2 linked regions of the Homo sapiens genome follow. The protein of the gene in region 1 binds, or shares a complex with, the protein of each later gene. Each region holds a gene or a part of one and is shown on either strand. Other genes may lie near its edges. A codon is read from its position in the direction of its gene.

Region 1 (9,219 bases):
GTGAAGAAGATGTATAAAAGATAGAACCTATACCCATACATGATTTGTTCTCTAGCGTAGCAACCTGTTACATATTAAAGTTTTATTATACTACATTTTTCTACATCCTTTGTTTCAGGGTGTTGATTGCCTTTGCTCAGTATCTTCAGCAGTGTCCATTTGAAGATCATGTAAAATTAGTGAATGAAGTAACTGAATTTGCAAAAACATGTGTTGCTGATGAGTCAGCTGAAAATTGTGACAAATCACTTGTAAGTACATTCTAATTGTGGAGATTCTTTCTTCTGTTTGAAGTAATCCCAAGCATTTCAAAGGAATTTTTTTTAAGTTTTCTCAATTATTATTAAGTGTCCTGATTTGTAAGAAACACTAAAAAGTTGCTCATAGACTGATAAGCCATTGTTTCTTTTGTGATAGAGATGCTTTAGCTATGTCCACAGTTTTAAAATCATTTCTTTATTGAGACCAAACACAACAGTCATGGTGTATTTAAATGGCAATTTGTCATTTATAAACACCTCTTTTTAAAATTTGAGGTTTGGTTTCTTTTTGTAGAGGCTAATAGGGATATGATAGCATGTATTTATTTATTTATTTATCTTATTTTATTATAGTAAGAACCCTTAACATGAGATCTACCCTGTTATATTTTTAAGTGTACAATCCATTATTGTTAACTACGGGTACACTGTTGTATAGCTTACTCATCTTGCTGTATTAAAACTTTGTGCCCATTGATTAGTAACCCCTCGTTTCGTCCTCCCCCAGCCACTGGCAACCAGCATTATACTCTTTGATTCTATGAGTTTGACTACTTTAGCTACCTTATATAAGTGGTATTATGTACTGTTTATCTTTTTATGACTGACTTATTTCCCTTAGCATAGTGCATTCAAAGTCCAACCATGTTGTTGCCTATTGCAGAATTTCCTTCTTTTCAAGGCTGAATAATATTCCAGTGCATGTGTGTACCACATTTTCTTTATCCATTAATTTGTTGATTGATAGACATTTAGGTTGGTTTTCTACATCTTGACTATCATGAATAGTGTTGCAATGAACACAGGAGAGCTACTATCTCTTAGAGATGATATCATGGTTTTTATCATCAGAAAACACCCACTGATTTCTATGCTAATTTTGTTACCTGGGTGGAATAATAGTACAGCTATATATTCCTCATTTTAGATATCTTTGTATTTCTACATACAATAAAAAAGCAGAGTACTTAGTCATGTTGAAGAACTTTAAACTTTTAGTATTTCCAGATCAATCTTCAAAACAAGGACAGGTTTATCTTTCTCTCACCACTCAATCTATATATACCTCTTGTGGGCAAGGCCAGTTTTTATCACTGGAGCCTTTCCCCTTTTTATTATGTACCTCTCCCTCACAGCAGAGTCAGGACTTTAACTTTACACAATACTATGGCTCTACATATGAAATCTTAAAAATACATAAAAATTAATAAATTCTGTCTAGAGTAGTATATTTTCCCTGGGGTTACAGTTACTTTCATAATAAAAATTAGAGATAAGGAAAGGACTCATTTATTGGAAAGTGATTTTAGGTAACATTTCTGGAAGAAAAATGTCTATATCTTAATAGTCACTTAATATATGATGGATTGTGTTACTCCTCAGTTTTCAATGGCATATACTAAAACATGGCCCTCTAAAAAGGGGGCAAATGAAATGAGAAACTCTCTGAATGTTTTTCTCCCCTAGGTGAATTCACCTGCTGCTTAGAAGCTTATTTTCTCTTGATTTCTGTTATAATGATTGCTCTTACCCTTTAGTTTTAAGTTTCAAAATAGGAGTCATATAACTTTCCTTAAAGCTATTGACTGTCTTTTTGTCCTGTTTTATTCACCATGAGTTATAGTGTGACAGTTAATTCTTATGAAAATTATATAGAGATGGTTAAATCATCAGAAACTGTAAACCTCGATTGGGAGGGGAAGCGGATTTTTAAATGATTTCCTGACCAAGCTTAACCAGTATATTAAATCCTTTGTACTGTTCTTTGGCTATAAAGAAAAAAGGTACTGTCCAGCAACTGAAACCTGCTTTCTTCCATTTAGCATACCCTTTTTGGAGACAAATTATGCACAGTTGCAACTCTTCGTGAAACCTATGGTGAAATGGCTGACTGCTGTGCAAAACAAGAACCTGAGAGAAATGAATGCTTCTTGCAACACAAAGATGACAACCCAAACCTCCCCCGATTGGTGAGACCAGAGGTTGATGTGATGTGCACTGCTTTTCATGACAATGAAGAGACATTTTTGAAAAAGTAAGTAATCAGATGTTTATAGTTCAAAATTAAAAAGCATGGAGTAACTCCATAGGCCAACACTCTATAAAAATTACCATAACAAAAATATTTTCAACATTAAGACTTGGAAGTTTTGTTATGATGATTTTTTAAAGAAGTAGTATTTGATACCACAAAATTCTACACAGCAAAAAATATGATCAAAGATATTTTGAAGTTTATTGAAACAGGATACAATCTTTCTGAAAAATTTAAGATAGACAAATTATTTAATGTATTACGAAGATATGTATATATGGTTGTTATAATTGATTTCGTTTTAGTCAGCAACATTATATTGCCAAAATTTAACCATTTATGCACACACACACACACACACACACACTTAACCCTTTTTTCCACATACTTAAAGAATGACAGAGACAAGACCATCATGTGCAAATTGAGCTTAATTGGTTAATTAGATATCTTTGGAATTTGGAGGTTCTGGGGAGAATGTCGATTACAATTATTTCTGTAATATTGTCTGCTATAGAAAAGTGACTGTTTTTCTTTTTCAAAATTTAGATACTTATATGAAATTGCCAGAAGACATCCTTACTTTTATGCCCCGGAACTCCTTTTCTTTGCTAAAAGGTATAAAGCTGCTTTTACAGAATGTTGCCAAGCTGCTGATAAAGCTGCCTGCCTGTTGCCAAAGGTATTATGCAAAAGAATAGAAAAAAAGAGTTCATTATCCAACCTGATTTTGTCCATTTTGTGGCTAGATTTAGGGAACCTGAGTGTCTGATACAAACTTTCCGACATGGTCAAAAAAGCCTTCCTTTTATCTGTCTTGAAAATCTTTCATCTTTGAAGGCCTACACTCTCGTTTCTTCTTTTAAGATTTGCCAATGATGATCTGTCAGAGGTAATCACTGTGCATGTGTTTAAAGATTTCACCACTTTTTATGGTGGTGATCACTATAGTGAAATACTGAAACTTGTTTGTCAAATTGCACAGCAAGGGGCCACAGTTCTTGTTTATCTTTTCATGATAATTTTTAGTAGGGAGGGAATTCAAAGTAGAGAATTTTACTGCATCTAGATGCCTGAGTTCATGCATTCATTCCATAAATATATATTATGGAATGCTTTATTTTCTTTTCTGAGGAGTTTACTGATGTTGGTGGAGGAGAGACTGAAATGAATTATACACAAAATTTAAAAATTAGCAAAATTGCAGCCCCTGGGATATTAGCGTACTCTTTCTCTGACTTTTCTCCCACTTTTAAGGCTCTTTTTCCTGGCAATGTTTCCAGTTGGTTTCTAACTACATAGGGAATTCCGCTGTGACCAGAATGATCGAATGATCTTTCCTTTTCTTAGAGAGCAAAATCATTATTCGCTAAAGGGAGTACTTGGGAATTTAGGCATAAATTATGCCTTCAAAATTTAATTTGGCACAGTCTCATCTGAGCTTATGGAGGGGTGTTTCATGTAGAATTTTTCTTCTAATTTTCATCAAATTATTCCTTTTTGTAGCTCGATGAACTTCGGGATGAAGGGAAGGCTTCGTCTGCCAAACAGAGACTCAAGTGTGCCAGTCTCCAAAAATTTGGAGAAAGAGCTTTCAAAGCATGGTAAATACTTTTAAACATAGTTGGCATCTTTATAACGATGTAAATGATAATGCTTCAGTGACAAATTGTACATTTTTATGTATTTTGCAAAGTGCTGTCAAATACATTTCTTTGGTTGTCTAACAGGTAGAACTCTAATAGAGGTAAAAATCAGAATATCAATGACAATTTGACATTATTTTTAATCTTTTCTTTTCTAAATAGTTGAATAATTTAGAGGACGCTGTCCTTTTTGTCCTAAAAAAAGGGACAGATATTTAAGTTCTATTTATTTATAAAATCTTGGACTCTTATTCTAATGGTTCATTATTTTTATAGAGCTGTAGGCATGGTTCTTTATTTAATTTTTTAAAGTTATTTTTAATTTTTGTGGATACAGAGTAGGTATACATATTTACGGGGTATATGAGATATTTTGATATAAGTATACAACATATATAATCCCTTTATTTAATTTTATCTTCCCCCCAATGATCTAAAACTATTTGCTTGTCCTTTTATGTCTTATAGTTAAATTCAGTCACCAACTAAGTTGAAGTTACTTCTTATTTTTGCATAGCTCCAGCTCTGATCTTCATCTCATGTTTTTGCCTGAGCCTCTGTTTTCATATTACTTAGTTGGTTCTGGGAGCATACTTTAATAGCCGAGTCAAGAAAAATACTAGCTGCCCCGTCACCCACACTCCTCACCTGCTAGTCAACAGCAAATCAACACAACAGGAAATAAAATGAAAATAATAGACATTATGCATGCTCTCTAGAAACTGTCAATTGAACTGTATTTGCTCATCATTCCTACCATCTACACCACCAAAATCAACCAAATTTATGAAAAAAAACAGCCCCAACATAAAATTATACACAGATAAACAGGCTATGATTGGTTTTGGGAAAGAAGTCACCTTTACCTGATTTAGGCAACTGTGAAATGACTAGAGAATGAAGAAAATTAGACGTTTACATCTTGTCATAGAGTTTGAAGATAGTGCTGGATCTTTCTTTTTATAAGTAAGATCAATAAAAACTCCCTCATTCTGTAGAAGTTATGATTTCTTTTCTAAGAGACCTTTAGAAGTCAGAAAAAATGTGTTTCAATTGAGAAAAAAGATAACTGGAGTTTGTGTAGTACTTCCCAGATTATAAAATGCTTTTGTATGTATTATCTAATTTAATCCTCAAAACTTCTTCAATTTAGCATGTTGTCATGACACTGCAGAGGCTGAAGCTCAGAGAGGCTGAGCCCTCTGCTAACAAGTCCTACTGCTAACAAGTGATAAAGCCAGAGCTGGAAGTCACATCTGGACTCCAAACCTGATGCTTCTCAGCCTGTTGCCCCTTTTAGAGTTCCTTTTTAATTTCTGCTTTTATGACTTGCTAGATTTCTACCTACCACACACACTCTTAAATGGATAATTCTGCCCTAAGGATAAGTGATTACCATTTGGTTCAGAACTAGAACTAATGAATTTTAAAAATTATTTCTGTATGTCCATTTTGAATTTTCTTATGAGAAATAGTATTTGCCTAGTGTTTTCATATAAAATATCGCATGATAATACCATTTTGATTGGCGATTTTCTTTTTAGGGCAGTAGCTCGCCTGAGCCAGAGATTTCCCAAAGCTGAGTTTGCAGAAGTTTCCAAGTTAGTGACAGATCTTACCAAAGTCCACACGGAATGCTGCCATGGAGATCTGCTTGAATGTGCTGATGACAGGGTAAAGAGTCGTCGATATGCTTTTTGGTAGCTTGCATGCTCAAGTTGGTAGAATGGATGCGTTTGGTATCATTGGTGATAGCTGACAGTGGGTTGAGATTGTCTTCTGTGCTTTCGTCTGTCCTATCTTCAATCTTTCCCTGCCTATGGTGGTGGTACCTTTCTGTTTTTAACCTGGCTATAAATTACCAGATAAACCCATTCACTGATTTGTAACTCCTTTCAGTCATGCTCTAACTGTAAATGAAGGCTTAAACTGAAGTAGAACAGTTACAAGGTTTTACTTGGCAGAACATCTTGCAAGGTAGATGTCTAAGAAGATTTTTTTTTCTTTTTTTAAGACAGAGTTTCGCTCTTGTTTCCCAGGCTGGGGTGCAATGGTGTGATCTTGGCTCAGCGCAACCTCTGCCTCCTGGGTTCAAGTGATTCTCATGCCTCAGCCTCCCAAGTAGCTGGGATTACAGGCATGCGCCACCACACCTGGCTAATTTTGTATTTTTAGTAGAGGCGGGGTTTCACCATATTGTCCAGACTGGTCTCGAACTCCTGACCTCAGGTGATCCACCCGCCTTGGCCTCCCAAAGTGCTGGGATTACAGGCATGAGCCACCTTGCCCAGCCTAAGAAGATTTTTTGAGGGAGGTAGGTGGACTTGGAGAAGGTCACTACTTGAAGAGATTTTTGGAAATGATGTATTTTTCTTCTCTATATTCCTTCCCTTAATTAACTCTGTTTGTTAGATGTGCAAATATTTGGAATGATATCTCTTTTCTCAAAACTTATAATATTTTCTTTCTCCCTTTCTTCAAGATTAAACTTATGGGCAAATACTAGAATCCTAATCTCTCATGGCACTTTCTGGAAAATTTAAGGCGGTTATTTTATATATGTAAGCAGGGCCTATGACTATGATCTTGACTCATTTTTCAAAAATCTTCTATATTTTATTTAGTTATTTGGTTTCAAAAGGCCTGCACTTAATTTTGGGGGATTATTTGGAAAAACAGCATTGAGTTTTAATGAAAAAAACTTAAATGCCCTAACAGTAGAAACATAAAATTAATAAATAACTGAGCTGAGCACCTGCTACTGATTAGTCTATTTTAATTAAGTGGGAATGTTTTTGTAGTCCTATCTACATCTCCAGGTTTAGGAGCAAACAGAGTATGTTCATAGAAGGAATATGTGTATGGTCTTAGAATACAATGAATATGTTCTGCCAACTTAATAAAGGTCTGAGGAGAAAGTGTAGCAATGTCAATTCGTGTTGAACAATTTCCACCAACTTACTTATAGGCGGACCTTGCCAAGTATATCTGTGAAAATCAAGATTCGATCTCCAGTAAACTGAAGGAATGCTGTGAAAAACCTCTGTTGGAAAAATCCCACTGCATTGCCGAAGTGGAAAATGATGAGATGCCTGCTGACTTGCCTTCATTAGCTGCTGATTTTGTTGAAAGTAAGGATGTTTGCAAAAACTATGCTGAGGCAAAGGATGTCTTCCTGGGCATGTAAGTAGATAAGAAATTATTCTTTTATAGCTTTGGCATGACCTCACAACTTAGGAGGATAGCCTAGGCTTTTCTGTGGAGTTGCTACAATTTCCCTGCTGCCCAGAATGTTTCTTCATCCTTCCCTTTCCCAGGCTTTAACAATTTTTGAAATAGTTAATTAGTTGAATACATTGTCATAAAATAATACATGTTCATGGCAAAGCTCAACATTCCTTACTCCTTAGGGGTATTTCTGAAAATACGTCTAGAAACATTTTGTGTATATATAAATTATGTATACTTCAGTCATTCATTCCAAGTGTATTTCTTGAACATCTATAATATATGTGTGTGACTATGTATTGCCTGTCTATCTAACTAATCTAATCTAATCTAGTCTATCTATCTAATCTATGCAATGATAGCAAAGAAGTATAAAAAGAAATATAGAGTCTGACACCAGGTGCTTTATATTTGGTGAAAAGACCAGAAGTTCAGTATAATGGCAATATGGTAGGCAACTCAATTACAAAATAAATGTTTACATATTGTCAGAAGTTGTGGTGATAAACTGCATTTTTGTTGTTGGATTATGATAATGCACTAAATAATATTTCCTAAAATTATGTACCCTACAAGATTTCACTCATACAGAGAAGAAAGAGAATATTTTAAGAACATATCTCTGCCCATCTATTTATCAGAATCCTTTTGAGATGTAGTTTAAATCAAACAAAATGTTAATAAAAATAACAAGTATCATTCATCAAAGACTTCATATGTGCCAAGCAGTGTGTGCTTTGTGTAGATTATGTCATATAGTTCTCATAATCCACCTTCCGAGACAGATACTATTTATTTTTTGAGACAGAGTTTTACTCTTGTTGCCCAGGCTGGAGTGCAATGGTGCCATCTCGGCTCACCACAACCTCCGCCTCCCAGGTTCAAGCGATTCTCCTGCCTCAGCCTCCTGGGATTACAGGCATGCACCACCATGCCTGGCTAATTTTGTATTTTTAGTAGAGATGGGGTTTCACCATGTTGGTCAGACTGGTCTCAAACTCCTGACCTCTGGTGATATGCCTGCCTCAGCCTCCTAAAGTGCTGGGATTACAGGCATGAGCCACTGTGCCCAGCCGACAGATACTATTATTATTTCCATTCTACCGAGAAGGAGACTAAGGCTCTGATCATTTAAATAAGTTGCCTAAGGTGATGCAGTGATATAAGTAGCAGAGCTAGGAATTGAGCCTTGGTAACTTTAACTCTGGACCCCAAGTCCTTAGCTACTAAGCTTTACTGCATGGGGTTTAGTCAAATTAAGACTTTTGGAATATGAGTTACTTTTGAGATTAGCTTTGTGATATTTTTTGTGCTCATTTGTCCAACAAAGTCTATTTTATTTTCATCTTAATTAGGTTTTTGTATGAATATGCAAGAAGGCATCCTGATTACTCTGTCGTGCTGCTGCTGAGACTTGCCAAGACATATGAAACCACTCTAGAGAAGTGCTGTGCCGCTGCAGATCCTCATGAATGCTATGCCAAAGTGGTAGGTTTATTGTTGGAAAAAAATGTAGTTCTTTGACTGATGATTCCAATAATGAGAAAGAAAAATAATGCAAGAATGTAAAATGATATACAGTGCAATTTAGATCTTTTCTTGAGATGGTTTCAATTCTGGAATCTTAAACATGAAAGAAAAAGTAGCCTTAGAATGATTAACAAAATTTAGACTAGTTAGAATAGAAAGATCTGAATAGAGCAATCTCTAAAAAATTTTGATCTTTTTTTCTCTTTTTCACAATCCTGAGAACAAAAAAAAATTAAATTTAAATGTTAATTAGAAGATATTTAACTTAGATGTAAAGTGAGTTAACCTGATTCCAGGATTAATCAAGTACTAGAATTAGTATCTTATGGCAAATTATAGAACCTATCCCTTTAGAATATTTTCAAATCTTTTTGAGGATGTTTAGGAATAGTTTTACAAGAAATTAAGTTAGGAGAGGAAATCTGTTCTGGAGGATTTTTAGGGTTCCCACTAGCATATGTAATGGTTTCTGAACTATTCAGAATCAGAGAAAACTCATTTTTCCTGCTTTCAAGAAGCT
Region 2 (9,219 bases), on another chromosome or scaffold:
CAAGCAGGGCACCTGGGGTGGGGACTGGCCCGAGGCCCTGGCTATCAGTCAGCGGTGGCAGCAGCAGGACAAGGCGGCCAACAAGGAGCTCACCTTCCTGCTATTCTCCTGCCCGCACCGCCTGCGGGAGCACCTGGAGAGGGGCCGCGGAAACCTGGAGTGGAAGGGTGAGCCGGATCTGCAGCCGCAGGCTGTTCTGTCCTCTCTCCCGTCATGCCCACCTGCCTCAGTTCCCCTGCCAGGACCCTCCATCAGCCTCCCACTGCAGCCCACGCTCTGCCCCCCCATTCCTCAGGGGTCCTTCTACACTCAGCCCTCCCATGGCTCCCCAGCGCCCCCCAGGACAAACTCCTGGCTTCCTTCCTTGCCTTCTTTTTTTTTTTTTTTTTGTGAGACGGAGTTTCGCTCTTGTTGCCCAGGCTGGAGTGTAATGGCGCGATCTCGGCTCACCACAACCTCCGCCTCCCGGGTTCAAGTGATCTCCTGCCTCAGCCTCCCGAGTGGCTGGGATTACAGGCATGCACCACCATGCCCGGCTAATTTTGTATTTTTAGTAGAGACGGGGTTTCTTCATGTTGGTCAGGCTGGTCTCAAACCCCTGACCTCAGGTGATCCGCCCACCTCAGCCTCCCAAAGTGCTGGGATTACAGGCATGAGCTACTGCTCCTGGCTCCCCCCTTTTTTTTTTTTTTGAGACAGATTCTCGCTCTGTCACCCCAGGCTGGAATGTGGTGGCACCATCTCGGCTCACTGCAGCCTGAACCTCCCAGGCTCAAGCAGTCCTCCCACCTCAGCCAACCAAGTAGCTGGGACCACAGCCCAGCATCATCACACCTGGCTAACTTTATATTTTGTAGACACGGTGTCTCACTATGTTGCCCAGGCTGGTCTTGAACTCCTAGGCTCCAGCGATTCTCCTGCTTTGGTCTCCTGAGTAGCTGAGATTACAGGTGCATACCACCATAACTGGCTAATTTTTTTTTTTCCGCACAATCTCTGTTGCCCAGGCTAGTGTGAAGCAGGGTGATCTCAGCTCGCTGCAACCTCCGCCTCCTGGGTTTAAGGGATTCCGCTGCTTCAGCCTCATGAGTAGCTGGCACTATAGGCACATCCACCATGTCTGGCTAATTTTTATACTTTTAGTAGAGATGGGGTTTCGTCATGGTAGCTAGGCTGGTCTCAAACTCTTGACCTCAAGTGATCCACCCACCTCCGCCTCCCAAAGTGCTGGGATTACAGGAGTGAGCTACCGCGTCTGGCCATACCTGGCTAATTTTTAAAATTTGTTGTAGAGGTGGCATCTCACTATGCTGCCCAGGCCAGACTCAAACTCCTGGCCTCAAGTGATTCTCTCACTTTGGCCTCCCAGGGTGCTGGGATGACAGGTGTGAGCCACTGTGCTTGGCCTTCCTTGCCTTAATGTCCTCATCAGACCCACGCAGCAGCACTTGTCTCTACGCAGCCATCAGAGTCTACGCTCCAGCCACCCAACATAAGCAATCTCCTCCCTCTGGGCATTTGCTCATCCAGTTTCCCCTGGCACCTCTCTGTTCCACCCTTCCCCCTCTCTGCATATACTCCAGCCCTCCTTATTCTTCAAGGTCAGGGCTGGATATCACTTCCTCTGAGAAGCCTTTCCTCAGCTCTGTAGGGCAGAGTTCACTGTTTCCTCCCCGGAGGCCCCCAGATCCCCACTCATTCAACTGTTGGCCAAGAGCATTTGCACTGCCAGGCGCTGCTCTGGGCCTTGAGCAAAGAGGGAAGTGACACACATTCACCCTCTGTGGCTCCCAGGCTGCTGGACAAAGATAGATACCAGCTGGGGATGTGCACAGATATTCATTCCAAGTGCCACAAAGGAGAAGTTGAGACTCAACCAGGTAGTTTTTCTTTAATTGTCTTCTTTCTTTCCTAAGTAGGGAAAATTTCTTTCTTTTTTTGAGACAGAGTTTCGCTCTTGTCGCCCAGGCTGGAGTGCAATGGCGCGATCTCGGCTCACTGCAACCTCCGCCTCCCAGGTTCAAGTGATTCTCCTGCCTCAGCCTCCCGAGTAGCTGGGACTACAGGCGTGCACCACCACGCCTGGCTAATTTTTGTTTGTTTTTTTTTTTTTAGTAAAGACAGGGTTTTACCATGTTGGCCGGGATGGTCTCGATCTTTTGACCTCGTGATCTGCCTGCCTCGGCCTCCCAAAGTGCTGGAATTACAGACGTGAGCCACTGCTCCTGGCCTTTGTTGTTGTTGTTGTTGTTTTTGAGACAGACTCTTGCACTGTCGCCCAGACTGCAGTACTGTGGCGCAATCTTGGCTCACTGCAACCTCCGCCTCCCAGGTTCAAGCAATTCTCCTACCTCAGCCTCCCGAGTAGCTGGGATTACAGGCACACACCACCATGCCTGGCTAATTTTTGTATTTTTAGTAGAGACGGGGGCTTCACCATGCTGGCCAGGCTGGTCTCGAACTCCTGATCTCGTGATCTGCCTACCTTGGCCTCCCAAAGTGCTGGGATTACAGGCATGAGCCACCACTCCTGGCTTAAGGAGGGAAAGTTTCAAACCACACTTAAGTAGAAACAATAGTATAAAACGGACCAGACACGGTGGCTCACGCCTATAATCCCAGAACTTTGGGAGGCCGAGGCAGGTGGATTGCTTGATCCCAGGAGTTCAAGACCAGCCTGGGCAACATAGTAAGACCGCATCTCTACTAAAAACTCAAAAAATTAGCCTGGCATGGTGGTATGTGCCTCTAGTCCCAGCCACTGGGGAGGCTATGGCAGGAGGATCGCTTGAGCTCAGGAGTTTGAGGCTGTAGTGAACTGATTGCAACTCTGCACTCCAGCCCAGATGACAGAGCCAGACCCTGTCTCAAAAAGAAAAAAAATATGGTGGCCAGGTGCAGTGGCTCACGCCTGTAATTCCAACACTTTGGGAGGCCGAGGTGGGCAGATCACTTAAGGTCAGGAGTTTGAGATAAGCCTGGCCAACAGAGTGAAACCCCATCTCTACTAAACATACAAAAATTAGCCGGGTGCGGTGGTGGGTGCTTGTAATTCCAGCTATTCGGGAGGCTGAGGCAGGAGAATCACTTGATCCCGGGAAGCAGAGGTTGCAGTGAGCCGAGATCAAGCCACTGCACTCCAGCCTGGGCAACAAAGCAAGACTCTGTCTCAAAGAAAGAAGGAAAGAAAGAGAGAGGAGAGGGAGAGAGAAAGAGGAAGGAAAGGAAGGAAGGAAGGAAGGAAGCGAGCATCCCATCACTGAGACTTAATAATTATCAACCCATGGTTTTTTGAATTTCACGCACATCCTCACTCACTTCCCCACCCCACTTCACATCAAGCTTTGGTAAATCTCAGACATCACAGTGTTTTTTTCTTTGTTTGTTTGTATTTTGAGATGGAGTCTCACTCTGTCATGCGGGAGTGTAGTGGCTCAGTCTCGGCTCACTGCAAGCTTCGCCTCCCAGGTTCAAACAATTCTCCTGCCTCAGCCTCCTGAGTAGCTGGGATTACAGGTGCCCGCCACCTCGCCCAGCCAATTTTTGTATTTTTAGTAGAGATGAGGTTTCACCATATTGGCCAGGCTGGTCTTGAACTCCTGACCTCGTGATCCACCCACCTTGGCCTCCCAAAGTGCTGGGATTACAGGCATAAGCCACCGCGCCTGGCCAATTTTTGTATTTTTAGTAGAGACGGGATTTCACTATGTTGGCCAGGCTGGTCTCGAACCCTCCACCTCAAGTGATCTGCCCTCCTCAGCCTCCCAAAGTGCGGGAGTCACCGTGCCCAGCCAGACTGTTTTGTTGATAAGTCCTTTAGTATGTAACTCTACTAGGTAAGGGCATTTAAAAAAAATTAATACCAAAACCATCATCACACCTACAACCAATTAACTCTTTAATGGCATCAGATGTCCAGTTTTTGTTCCCATATTCCTGACTGTAAATGTTTTTTAAAGTTTGAATCAGCATCCAGCAAGGTCCACACATTTTGTTGTCTTTTCAGTGTCTTTTTCTGATTGTTGAATTTTTCTTTCTTTCTTTTTTTTTTTTTTTTTCCTTTTTGAGACAGGGTCTTGCTCTGTCACCAGACTGGAGTCCAGTGGTGCAATCATAGCTCACTGCAGTCTGAACTTCCTGGGCTCAAGTAATTCTCCCACTTCAGCCTCCCCAGTAGGTAGGACCACAGGTGCACGCCATCAGGCCTAGCTATTTTTGTTTGTTTGTTTTTTGAGACAAAGTCTTACTCTGTCGCCCAGACTGGAGTGCAGAGGCACGAACTCGGCTCACTGCAACTTCTGCCTCCCGGGTTCAAGCAATTCTCCTGCCTCAGCGTCCCAAGTAGCTGGGATTACAGGCGCAAGCCACCACGCCCTGCTAATTTTTTGTATCTTTAGTAGAGACAGAGTTTCACCATGTTGGCCAGGCTGGTTTCGAACTCCCGACCCCAGGTGATCCACCCACCTCGGCCTCCCAAAGTGCTGGGATTACAGGCGTGAGCCACCGCGCTCGGCCGTATTTTTGTTTTTTTCTTTTTTTTGGAGACGGAGTCTCGCTCTGTCACCCAGGCTGGGGTGCAGTGGCGCGATCTCAGCTCATTGCAACCTCCACCTCCCAAGTTGCACCAATTCTCCTGCCTCAGCCTCCCGAGTGGCTGGGACTACAGGCGCCCACCACCACGCCCGGCTAATTTTTTGTATTTTTAGTAGAGACAGAGTTTCACTGTGTTAGGCAGGATGGTCTCGATCTCCTGACCTCCTGATCCGCCTGCCTCAGCCTCCCAAAGTACTGGGATTACAGGCTTGAGCCACCGCGCCCGGCCGGATTCCAATTTTTTACCAGATAGGTGTTTTGCAAATATTTCTTCCACTCTCTAGGTTGTCTTTTCATTGTTTTAACTGTGCCTTTCACAAAGCAAAAGTTTTTAACTTTGATGAAATCCAGTTTATTCTTTTTTTTTTTTCTATCGTGGATTATGCTTTTGGTGTTTAATCTCAGAAGTAATCACCAAACCCAAAGTCAGCTAGATCTTCTCCTGTGTATTTTAAGAGTTTTAAAGTTTTGCATTTTACAGTTAGGTCTGTGATTCATTTTCAGGTAATTTGAGTTACTTGTGATCTTGAGTGTCTTTTGATTTACAGGTTTCCCATTTTCTTTTTGTTTTTTTTCCCCCTGTAATTGTGGTTTGAAGAAAGTCAGTTTATGTCCTATTGAGTTTCTCCTAGACTGGATTTTGCCCTTTGCATCCTGTGATGTTGCTGGAAATAGTCCTCCTTCTCTTCTTTAAAGGAGCAGCTCCATCTAGAAGCTTGGTCAGATTCTGGTTCAATTTTTATGGCAAGAAAACTTTCTGGGTAGTTGGTGCGTATGTCTGTGTGCATAGGCTGCAAACATCTGCTTGCTTCTGTGCTGTTCTGTGGACCACTGGATTCGGGTGTTGTTATGAAGTTCTTTGTCAGGTTTTCTCCTGATGGTTTTAGCGGATAGCAATGGCCATTGCCTTAATCTTTTTTTTTTTTTTTTTTTTTTGAGATGGAGTCTTGCTCTGTCGCCCAGGCTGGAGTGCAGTGTTGCGATCTTGGCTCACTGCAACCTCCGCCTCCCAGGTTCAAGCGATTCTGCTGCCTCAGCCTCCTGAGTAGCTGGGATTACAGGTGCGTGCCACCATGCCTGGCTAATTTTTGTATTTTTTTTGGAGAGATGGGGTTTCACTATGTTGGGCAGGCTGGTCTTGAACTCCTGACCTTGTGATCCACTTGCCTCGGCCTCCCAAAGTGCTGGGATTACAGGCGTGAGCCACCGCGCCCGGGCTTTTTTTTTTTTTTTTTTGAGAGGGCGTCTCCCTCTGTCACCAGGCTGGAGTGCAGTAGCACGATCTCGGCTCACTGCAACCTCCACCTCCCAGGTTCAAGTGATCCTCCTGCCTCAGCCTCCTTAGTAGCTGGAATTACAGGCACACACCACCACACCCAGCTAATTTTTGTATTTTTAGTACAGACAGGGTTTCACCATGTTGGCCAGGATGGATTTTTTTTTTTTTTTTGAGATGGAGTTTCACTCTTATTGCGCAGGCTGGAGTACAATGGCATGATCTCAGCTCACTGCAACCTCCGCCTCCTGGATTCAAGTGATCCTCCTGCCTCAGCCTCCAGGGTAGCTGGGACTACAGGCATGCGCTGCCATGCCTAGCTAATTTTTATATGTTTAGTAGAGATGGAGTTTCACCATGTTGGCGAAGCTGGTCTTGAACTCCTGACATCAGGTGATCTGCCTGCCTCAGCCTCCCAAAGTGCTGGGGTTACAGACGTGAGCCACCATGCCTGACCTGGTTTGGTATTTTGTTAAACAGAACCAAAGGCCAGACAGATTTTCTGTGCTTGGATTTAGTCTATATTGGAAGTACCTTGAGGCTGAAGGCACGTGGCTGTGAGCACGACACAGGAAGATACAGATTTGCTGAAAAGAATAGTGAACATAAAGCAGAAGCCAGAACTGCTGATGGCCGTCAGCCCGGTCCCTCCATTCCACCTGACGGTGCAGCAAATTCTGCCGACTTGCCAGAGAGGCAGCTCCAGGAGGGAGAAGCTGCTGTGCTTTCCTGAAGCAGCAAATGTGTTTTCTGCTGAGCAACCAAAACCAAGATCCCAGCCAAGACCCACGATTGCCCAGATCCACCCTCCCTGAAAGGAACTTGGGCAGTAATGCCCAGTCCTAGGCAGTTGCTGAAATCTTTGCCTTTTATTTTCTTTTTTGAGCTGGGATCTTGCTCTGTCGCCCAGACTGGAGTGGAGTGCAGTGGCACAGTCATAGCGCCATGTAGCCTTGGACTCCCAAGCTCAAGAGATCCTCCCGCCTCAGCCTTACAAGTAGCTGGGACTATAGGTACACGTCACCATGCCTGGCTAACATTTTCTATTTTTTGTAGAGATGGGGTATTTGTTGCCAAGGCTGGTCTAGAAGTCCTGGGCTTGGCCGGGCACAGTGACTCACGCCTGTAATCCCAGCACTTTGGGAGGCTGAGGCAGGCGGATCACGAGGTCAGGAGTTCAAGACCAGCCTGGCCAATATGGTGAAACCCTGTTTCTACTAAAAATAGAAAAATTAGCTGGGCGTGGTGGTGTGCGCCTGTAATCCCAGCTACTCTGGAGGCTGAGGCAGGAGAATCGCTTGACCCCAGGAGGCGGAGGTTGCAGTGACCCAAGATTGTGCCACTGTACTCCAGCCTGGGCGACAGAGACTCCGTCTCAAAAAAAAAAAAAAAAAAAGGAAAAGAAAGCCTGGGCGTAAGGATCCTTCTGCCTTGACCTCCCAAGTGCTGGAATTGCAGGCATGAGCCATTGCACCCGGCTTTTTTTTTTTTTTTTCTTTGAGACAGGCACTTGCACTGTTGCCTAGACTGGAGTGCAGTAGCGGGATTAGAGTTCACTGCAGCCTCAACCTCCCAAGCTCAAGCGATCCTCCCACCTTACCCTTCCTGAATGGATGGGGCCACAGGTGTGTACCATCACACGTAGTTAATTTTTAAACTTTTTCAGAGACGGGGTTTCTCCATGTTGCCCAGGCTGGTCTTGAACTCCCGGCTTCCAGTGATCCTCCTGCCTCAGCTTCCCAAAGTGCTGGGATTACAGGCATGAACCACTGCACCCAACCTTTTTTCATTCCCTTAACGAAACCTTTGGATGAACAAAAATTCTTAATTTCAGTGAAGTTCAGTTTATCGACTTCAATTTATACATTTTATAAAGTTTATGAATTTTTTTTTTTTTTTTTAGACGGAGTCTTGCTCTGTCGCCCAGGCTGGAGTGCAGTGGCTATACCCAGGTGTGATCATAACTCACTCCAGCCTCAAACTCCTGGGCTCAAGGATTCCTCCTGCCTCAGTCTCCAGAGTAGGTGGGACCACAGGCACATCCACCACACTGGCTAATTTTTTTTATTTGTAGTGGAGACTACGTCTTACTGTTTGCCCAGGCTGGTCTCCAACTCCTGGGTTCAAGTGATCCACCTCATTCTCCCAAAGCGCTGGGATTGTAGGAGTGAGCCACTGCACCCAGCCTGTCTGCTAATATTATGTTTAAGAGTTCTGAATCTTTTTTTAAATTTTTTAAAATTTTTAATTTTTTATTTTTTTTGAGACAGTCTTGCTCTGTCGCCCAGGCTGGAGTGCAATGGTGCAATCTTGGCTCAATGCAACCTCCGCCTTCTGGGTTCAAGCGATTCTCCTGCCTTAGCCTCCTGAGTAGCTGGGATTACAGGTACACGCCACCATGCCTGGCTAATTTTTTTGTATTTTTAGTAGAGATGGGATTTCACCATGTTGGTCAGGCTGGTCTCGACCTCCTGACCTCGTGATCCTCCTGCCTCCACCCCCCAAAGCGCCAGGATTCTAGGTGTGAGCCACCACACCTGTCCTGAATCTATATTTATGAGAGACATTGGCCTTAAGCTCTCTTTTTTTTTTTTTTTTTTTTTTTTTGAGATGGAGTCTCGCTCTGTCACCCAGGCTGGAGTGCAGTGGCGCAATCTCGGCTCACTGCAAGCTCCGCCTCCCGGGTTCACGCCATTCTCCTGCCTCAGCCTCCCAAGTGGCTGGGACTACAGGCGCCGGCCACCACGCCCGGCTAATTTTTTGTATTTTTAGTAGAGATGGGGTTTCACCGTGTTAGCCGGGATAGTCTCAATCTCCTGACCTCGTGATCCGCCTGCCTCGGCCTCCCAAAGTGCTGGGATTACAGGCGTGAGCCACCGCGCCTGGCCAAGTTCTCTTTCTTATAATGTGCTTTGTTGTCAAGATGATGCTGACCTCATAAAATATGCTGGGAGAGTGTTTCCTCTGTTTTATGGCCTGAAGAGTTAGTGTAGGAATAGAATCATTTCTACATTGGAAGAATTCACTAATTGATGTCTTCTGGACCTGGAATTTTAGTTTTTGGAAAGTTTTAAACTATGGATTAAAAATTTTAAATAGGCCGGGTGTGGTGCATCATGCCTGTAATCCCAGCACTTTGGGAGGCTGAGGCAGGTAGATCACAATGTCAGGAATTTGAGACCAGCCTGGCCAATATGGTGAAACACCGTCTCTACTAAAAATAAAAAAATTACCCGGCATGGTGGTGCATGCACCTGTAGTCCCAGCCACTCGGGAGGCTGTGGAAGAAGAAACTCTTGAACCCAGGAAGTGGGGGTTGCAGTGAGTCGAGATCGTGCCACTGCACTCCA

Evidence for each region. The genes of interacting proteins can lie anywhere in the genome.
Region 2: the proteins of ALB (region 1) and FCGRT are in contact, whole or in part, in a crystal structure (PDB 6QIO), measured with the Homo sapiens proteins. Residues at the interface, in NP_000468.1 of Homo sapiens: Arg105 (codon at 2,126), Glu106 (codon at 2,129), Thr107 (codon at 2,132), Tyr108 (codon at 2,135), Gly109 (codon at 2,138), Glu110 (codon at 2,141), Asp113 (codon at 2,150), Asn133 (codon at 2,210), Asn135 (codon at 2,216), Gln441, Ser443, Pro445, Thr446, Glu449, Leu484, Leu487, His488, Thr491, Pro492, Val493, Tyr521, Val522, Pro523, Lys524, Thr530, Phe531, Thr532, Phe533, His534, Asp536; in NP_001129491.1 of Homo sapiens: Arg65, Glu67, Glu69, Gly72, Ala73, Val75, Trp76, Gln79, Val80, Ser81, Trp82, Trp84, Glu85, Lys86, Thr89, Arg92, Asn172, Lys173, Leu175, Thr176, Leu179, Phe180, His184, Glu188, Arg192, Gly195, Asn196, Trp199, Lys200, Glu201.

Annotation. Positions count from the first base shown.
Region 1 is NC_000004.12:73,406,511-73,415,729, forward strand, and holds part of ALB (albumin preproprotein), read left to right. Parts: intron 1-118; coding exon 119-251; intron 252-2,083; coding exon 2,084-2,295; intron 2,296-2,844; coding exon 2,845-2,977; intron 2,978-3,801; coding exon 3,802-3,899; intron 3,900-5,485; coding exon 5,486-5,615; intron 5,616-6,909; coding exon 6,910-7,124; intron 7,125-8,524; coding exon 8,525-8,657; intron 8,658-9,219. UniProt on the Homo sapiens protein: Binds water, Ca(2+), Na(+), K(+), fatty acids, hormones, bilirubin and drugs. Its main function is the regulation of the colloidal osmotic pressure of blood. Major zinc transporter in plasma, typically binds about 80% of all plasma zinc.
Region 2 is NC_000019.10:49,514,320-49,523,538, forward strand, and holds part of FCGRT (IgG receptor FcRn large subunit p51 isoform 1 precursor), read left to right. Parts: coding exon 1-167; intron 168-1,794; coding exon of another isoform or gene 1,795-1,880; intron 1,881-7,375; coding exon of another isoform or gene 7,376-7,494; intron 7,495-9,219. UniProt on the Homo sapiens protein: Cell surface receptor that transfers passive humoral immunity from the mother to the newborn. Binds to the Fc region of monomeric immunoglobulin gamma and mediates its selective uptake from milk.